Linked DNA regions of Homo sapiens: region 1 is linked to region 2. The links come from fine-mapping of genetic effects on gene expression. A gene starts in region 2. The other region holds a variant in brackets. All regions are shown on one strand. Distances are between the middles of the regions.

What was found. PIP is the estimated chance that this variant, and not a neighbour inherited with it, causes the effect.
Region 1: its variant is fine-mapped to the expression of PLEKHO2 in tibial artery (GTEx, PIP 0.98). The same link has a PIP of 0.9 or more in whole blood.

Annotation. Positions count from the first base shown.
Region 1 is chr15:64,872,181-64,874,680 of GRCh38, reverse strand. No RefSeq gene overlaps it. Among named protein-coding and RNA genes, the nearest start is that of PLEKHO2, 32 kb to the right of the region's middle. RefSeq lists enhancers at 1,526-1,575, 1,596-1,685. The variant G/A (reference allele first, on the strand shown) is at 1,444.
Region 2 is chr15:64,840,643-64,843,646 of GRCh38, reverse strand. It overlaps PLEKHO2 (pleckstrin homology domain containing O2), which reads right to left and starts at 1,732. Exons shown (of 6, transcript NM_025201.5): 1 at 1,619-1,732. The coding sequence starts at 1,630. It also overlaps a transcript of LOC124903508 not described here. RefSeq lists enhancers at 525-1,076, 1,109-1,632 and silencers at 1,440-1,879, 1,890-2,209.

The DNA.
Region 1 (2,500 bases), 31 kb before region 2:
ACACACACACACACACACACACATTTTAACAAAACAAATGGGCAATACCAGGTCCCCTCTGAGCTTTTGTTTTTTTTTTTTGAGATGGCAGTGGCACGATCTCAGCTGACTGCAACCTCCGCCTCCCAGGTTTAAGCGATCCTCCCACTTCGGCCTGCATCACCATGCCCTGCTAATTTTTTTTTGTAGAGACAGGATTTTGCCATGTTGCTCAGGCTGGTCTCAAGCCTTGAAGATTGGCCTCAAGACATCTGCCCACCTCAGCCTCCCAAAGTGCTGGAATTACACATATGAGCCACCACCTCCCCTGGCCGCTCTGAGCTGTTATTTCCTCCTCTCTAAAACCAGCAGGTGAGACTAGACGTCTCAAAGATCCTTATCAGCCCCAATATCCTGTGATTCCATGGATGGAATAGTTTCTCAGACTGGACGGTGGGCTGACGAATTGTGTTGGGGAGGGCAGTCCCCTAGGGACACAGGCTTCATGGGGAGGAAGGCCAAAAGCAGACCAGCCCCACACACCCTGCTCTTTAAGACTCCACTTTAGAGGTCCAAAGGGAGAAAGGGGCCGGGCACGGTGGCTGACGCCTATAATCCCAGCACTCTGGGAGGCCGAGGCAGGTGGATCACCTGAGGTCCGGAATTCGAAACCAACGTGGCCAACACGGTGAAACCCCGTCTCTACTAAAAATACAAAATTAGCTGGTCGTGGTGGTGGGTGCCTGTAGTCCCAGCTACTCGGGAGGCTGAGGCAGGAGAATTGCTTGAACCCAGGAGGAGGAGGAGGTTGCAGTGAGCCAAGATCGTGCCACTGCACTCCAGCCTGGCTCCAGCCTGGGCCACAGAGCAAGACCGGGTCTCAAATAAATAAATAAATAAATAAAAAGGGAGGCCAGGCGTGGTGGCTCACACCTGTAATCCCAGCACTTTGGGAGACCAAGGCAGGCAGATCACGAGGTCAGGAGATCTAGACCATCCTGGGGCGGGCGCCCGTAGTCCCAGCTACTCGGGAGGCTGAGGCAGAAGAATGGCATGAACTCGGGAGGCGGAGCTTGCAGTGAGCCGAGATTGTGCCACTGCACTCCAGCCTGGGTGACAGAGCGAGACTCCATCTCAAAAAAAAACAAAAAACAAAAGAGAGAAAGGGATGGCTGGCCTAATAGCCTTCTGGACCCTCTGATAATCCTCCCCAGGGTGAGTGTGAGTTTGAAGCCAGATAGGCCTACGGCTTGGAGTCCAGATCTGCAAGCTGCCTGCTGGATGTTGAAGGGTCCTGTCTCCTCCCTAGGCCTCAATGTAGGCATCTTCCCTTCTGTGGGCCACCCCCTCTGGTCCCAAGCCCTGCCTGGCCCCTCCTCCCATAAAATTATGACAACAGAGAGTGGAGGCTTGTGGGCAAGTTCCTGAGGAGGCTCAAACTCAGCTGTAACCCTTGGAGCCACC[G/A]TCATTTCCCCTCTCCCGCCTCCCCAGCTAGGAGGCTGAGAAGTTTCATCACAGCTGAGCTGTTGTCCTTATAAGGGAAAGTCCTCCGAAGCCTCTCCTTTGGGCCATAGCCAGCTGGTGGAGAACCTGCCCAGGCCTTGGGGTATCCTCCCAGTGCCAGGAAAGGTGGGGGTGCCCCAAGGACTCTGGGGTGAGCCTCCATCTGAAATCACAGACCCTCCAGACAAATAGCAGAAAGCAGTCAGTTGTGGCCCCAGGCCAAAACCCCAGGAGGGTCAAATCCCAGGTCCTGACACTAACTTTGGTCCCCTACCTAAGTTGCTTAAGCCTCAGTTTCTTAACCTGTAAAATGGAGTGAAATTACATCTTCCTTGTGAGGCCACTGTGGTGACTGTGAGAGGTTAACAGGCCTGGCAAACAGTAGGTGCTCTGTGAGGCCAGGCTGCTGGAGTTTATTAAGCATTTTCTTTTCTTTTTTTTTTTTTTTTTTTTGAGACATAGTCTCACTCTGTTGCCTCCTGAGTAGCTGAGACTACAGGCGCCTGCCACCACTCCTGGCTAATTTTGTATTTTTAGTAGAGACGGAGTTTTCCCGTGTTGGCCAGGCTGGTCTCGAACTCCTGACCTCAGGTGATCCACCCACCTCAGCCTCCCAAAGTGCTGGGATTATAGGTGTGAGCCACTGCACCTGGCTACCCCTGGGGTTTGAATCCAGGTGTGTCTGCCTCCAAACCTGAAGTCATGTTTTCTCTACTTACATCCTGCTGTTTCCTCTAAGAATTTTGTTAAATTATGTCAACAGGGAGGAATTTCCATCATCACCTCTCCACCATCCATGTTCCATCACAGAGCCTCCTTGGTCACAGAAACCTCTGTGGAGTGAGTTTGTCTTTTCTGACACCCCTTTTGTCTGGGACATGAGGGTAGGGGTGGGGAGGCAGGAAGACAAGACAGGGAGAAGGGAACAAAACACAGTGACTCCCGAGACAGGATGCCGCCAGGGCCTAGGCAGGGGTAGAGGAAGGGGCAATCTGGTTGCCCCTCCCCCTGTCCTGGG
Region 2 (3,004 bases):
ATCTCGCCACTGCACTCCAGCCTGGGCAACAAGAGCGAAACTCCGTCTCAAAAAAAAAAAAAAAGAAAAGAAAGTGACAATGTGAGAGATTCAGGACCAAGGGTGTACAGAGCTGAGCCGGGCCCAGGAGGTGTCCGGAGAACTTCCCTTAATCAGGGGCCAGCGCAGATCAGGAGATGGAGTAATCCTGACCCACATCCTCTGGGAGCAGGGGAGGGGCCCTGGCCAGAGAGCCCAGCCCTTGCAGCAGGGGCCTGGGGCAGGCAGATGGCAGCCCCACCTAACAGCCAGAAAGAAACCGCAGCAAATCACAGAGGCCTGACTTTGCCCCCTACCTTCACCCACTGAGAGAACCGGCCACTGTCAGGCCAGGAGTATGAGGAGGACAGGCACTATATTTTGTAGAAGAGGAAATGAAGGCTGAGAGGGGAAGTGACTTATCTACCATCCCACAGAAAGGCAGGGCCTGGCCTAGAGGGAGCCCTGACGGACCACTAGCTGCTCCTATCCATGGCCCTGGAAAAGTGGGAGGTGGGCACTGAAGGGACACAGGCAGTCCGGTCCACTCAGGGCTTCCCAGCTGGCCAGGGTTCCCCCAAGGCAGAGAACTTCATCTTTCCTCCCCATCCAAGGAGGCAAAGACATGCCCCTTCCCTTGGGCTGAGAGGGGCTGAAGCTGGGACCCCCTCAGGGGATAAGAAACAAATTCACCTTCCTCTAGACCCAACAGGCCCCTCATTTTAACTTAATCATTCCACAGGCATATATTAAGTGCTTGCTGCGTGCTGGACCCTCGGATAAAGCGGCTGCTGGCAGAACTGAGTTTGCAAGTAAAGGGCAGGGGCAGGGGCAAGACCCAATCCCAGGCCAAGAGTGTTTTGAGTGGTTAGAAGGAGGCTCCAGGGACACAGTTGGTCCAGCCCTCGGGTGGGGAAGGCAGGGACTAAGATCAGACCCTAGGTGGGCCGGACTCCCGATTCCTTCCCTACAGCTAGCTGCTCAGATGGATGTGGAGCGGGGAGAGAGTGGGGGAAAAGATACAGAGACTTATACAAGGGAGAAAAAAGCAACTTCTCCAATCCTCCTGCCACCAAAGCATGGTCACATCCTTGAGACAGGAACCCCCCAACACACACATACACACACACACAGAGTCAGGATCCGATCCTTGAGACAGGAACCCCCCAACACACACATACACACACACACACAGTCAGGATCCGACACACACACACACACACACACACACACACACAGAGAGAGAGAGAGAGTCAGGATCCGACCACGGTAATCGGGGTTCGAGCCCAGTCACCCAGGCCACTTTCAGCAAGTCATCAATCTCGCTGGAGTCTCAGTCTCCTGGTCAATCCAATGGGAACGGTAACAACCACGACGCCCCACAACTGGTGAGAAAGTCAGCGAGAATGAAGGAGGACGCGGTCTGCGAAGTCCCCGATATGGATCCAGCCCCTCGCCCCTGCCCCATTTGCCCAGGCTCTTCCTGAGGTGAGACTGGCGGGAGTGGGGCGGGCAGGAACGAGGGCCTGAGCCCAGGACCGCAATCCCCGTGAGGGGCTCGAGGACCCCAGCCCAACGCCCCGCCGGGCCCCGCCCTCACCTCCTCCTCCATGGCGAGTCCGCCGAGGTCCCGCCGCTCCGCCACTCGCTTCCAGCGCCGCGCGGGCTCTGCCACCGCGTCTACGCCCGGCCAGGCGGCGACTCTCCGCGTTCTGTCCCGCCGGCTGCCGGGGGCCCAAGAAACTTCGGGGGGGCGGGGCCGGGGGCGGGGTGAGGCTTCCGGGGGCCGGGGCGGGGCCGGGGAGGGGGCGGTGGGGCCGGGGGCCCGGCCCAGGGCGGGAAATGGGTGGGGAGGGGCGGGGCCTGGGTTGGAGACTGGACGGAGGAGCCGGGCGGAGATGCAACTGGAGGAAGAGGGCGGGACGGGGCGGAGAAGGTTTCCCGCATCGGCGGAGGGAGAGGGACTAGGAGGGGGCTGCGGCGGGGGAGGAGAGGGGGCTTCCGGCCCAGAGACTGAGGCGAGGGTGGCGGGAGCGGCGCGCAGGCAGGGCTGGGGTGGGGCGCACACAGTGAGCGCTGGGGGCGCTGGCGGTGGAGCCTTTGAGGTCTCCCGAACCAGTGGGCTGGGGTTGCGAGACCGAGCCGAGCTGCCCTGGGCGGCCAGAGATGTGGGCACACAGAGGCTCCTCCTCTTTCCTCCCCGACGCCGGGCAGTGGGCGGTGGCCTGGTCTTCTCCCTGGAACCTCTGGGCGGGGCCGGGCCTGGAGCTTGGGTCTCTGTCCGGAGGGTGGTGTCACAGGAAGAGCTGGAGCTGAGAGTCGGGACTCCGGGGTCCCTTTAGGGGGCGGCCCGCCCCTGGCTCTCAGGGGTCTCCAAGCGCAGTGTTCTCCTGCTCTCCTTGGGCATCGCTCAATCCCTCCCGTATCTGAGGGTCGACCATCCCCCCGATCCCGCGGTGAGCTTGCAGCCCTGACAGCCTTACTGGAGAGTGGGAGTGTGGGGACCAGCAGAGAGTAATGATTTTAGTTATACCATGCGCCCTCATTTTACATTGGAGAAACTGAGGCCCAGAGAGAGAAAGTAACTGGCTGCATCGCAGCCTGCAGCACCGCTCCCCTCTCACACACACACGCATACTCCCCCTTAGCTCTCCTGGTCAACCCCGTCCCATGCCAAGGAAGGGAAAATTAAGTGCATGTGAGATCAATGGTGACCTTCTTCGGCTCTGGCTGCCATAGCAGCGGCTGTGCCAGCGACCAAGCTCCCCTTTCACGGCCTTCTGCCAGCCCTCAGGCTCCCAGGCTACTTCCAGCCCTGTACGGAAAAGGGCAGCCTGGGGCTCCCAGGCCAAGGGGGAAGGAGATGCAGGTACACTTCTCCCTCATGCCTAGGCCTGGGATCCTTTAGCTAAAGGAATGAAGAAAATTGAGGCTGATATTATCACACTGGTCAAGAAAAAGAAAGAATAGAAAAGAAAGAGAGAGG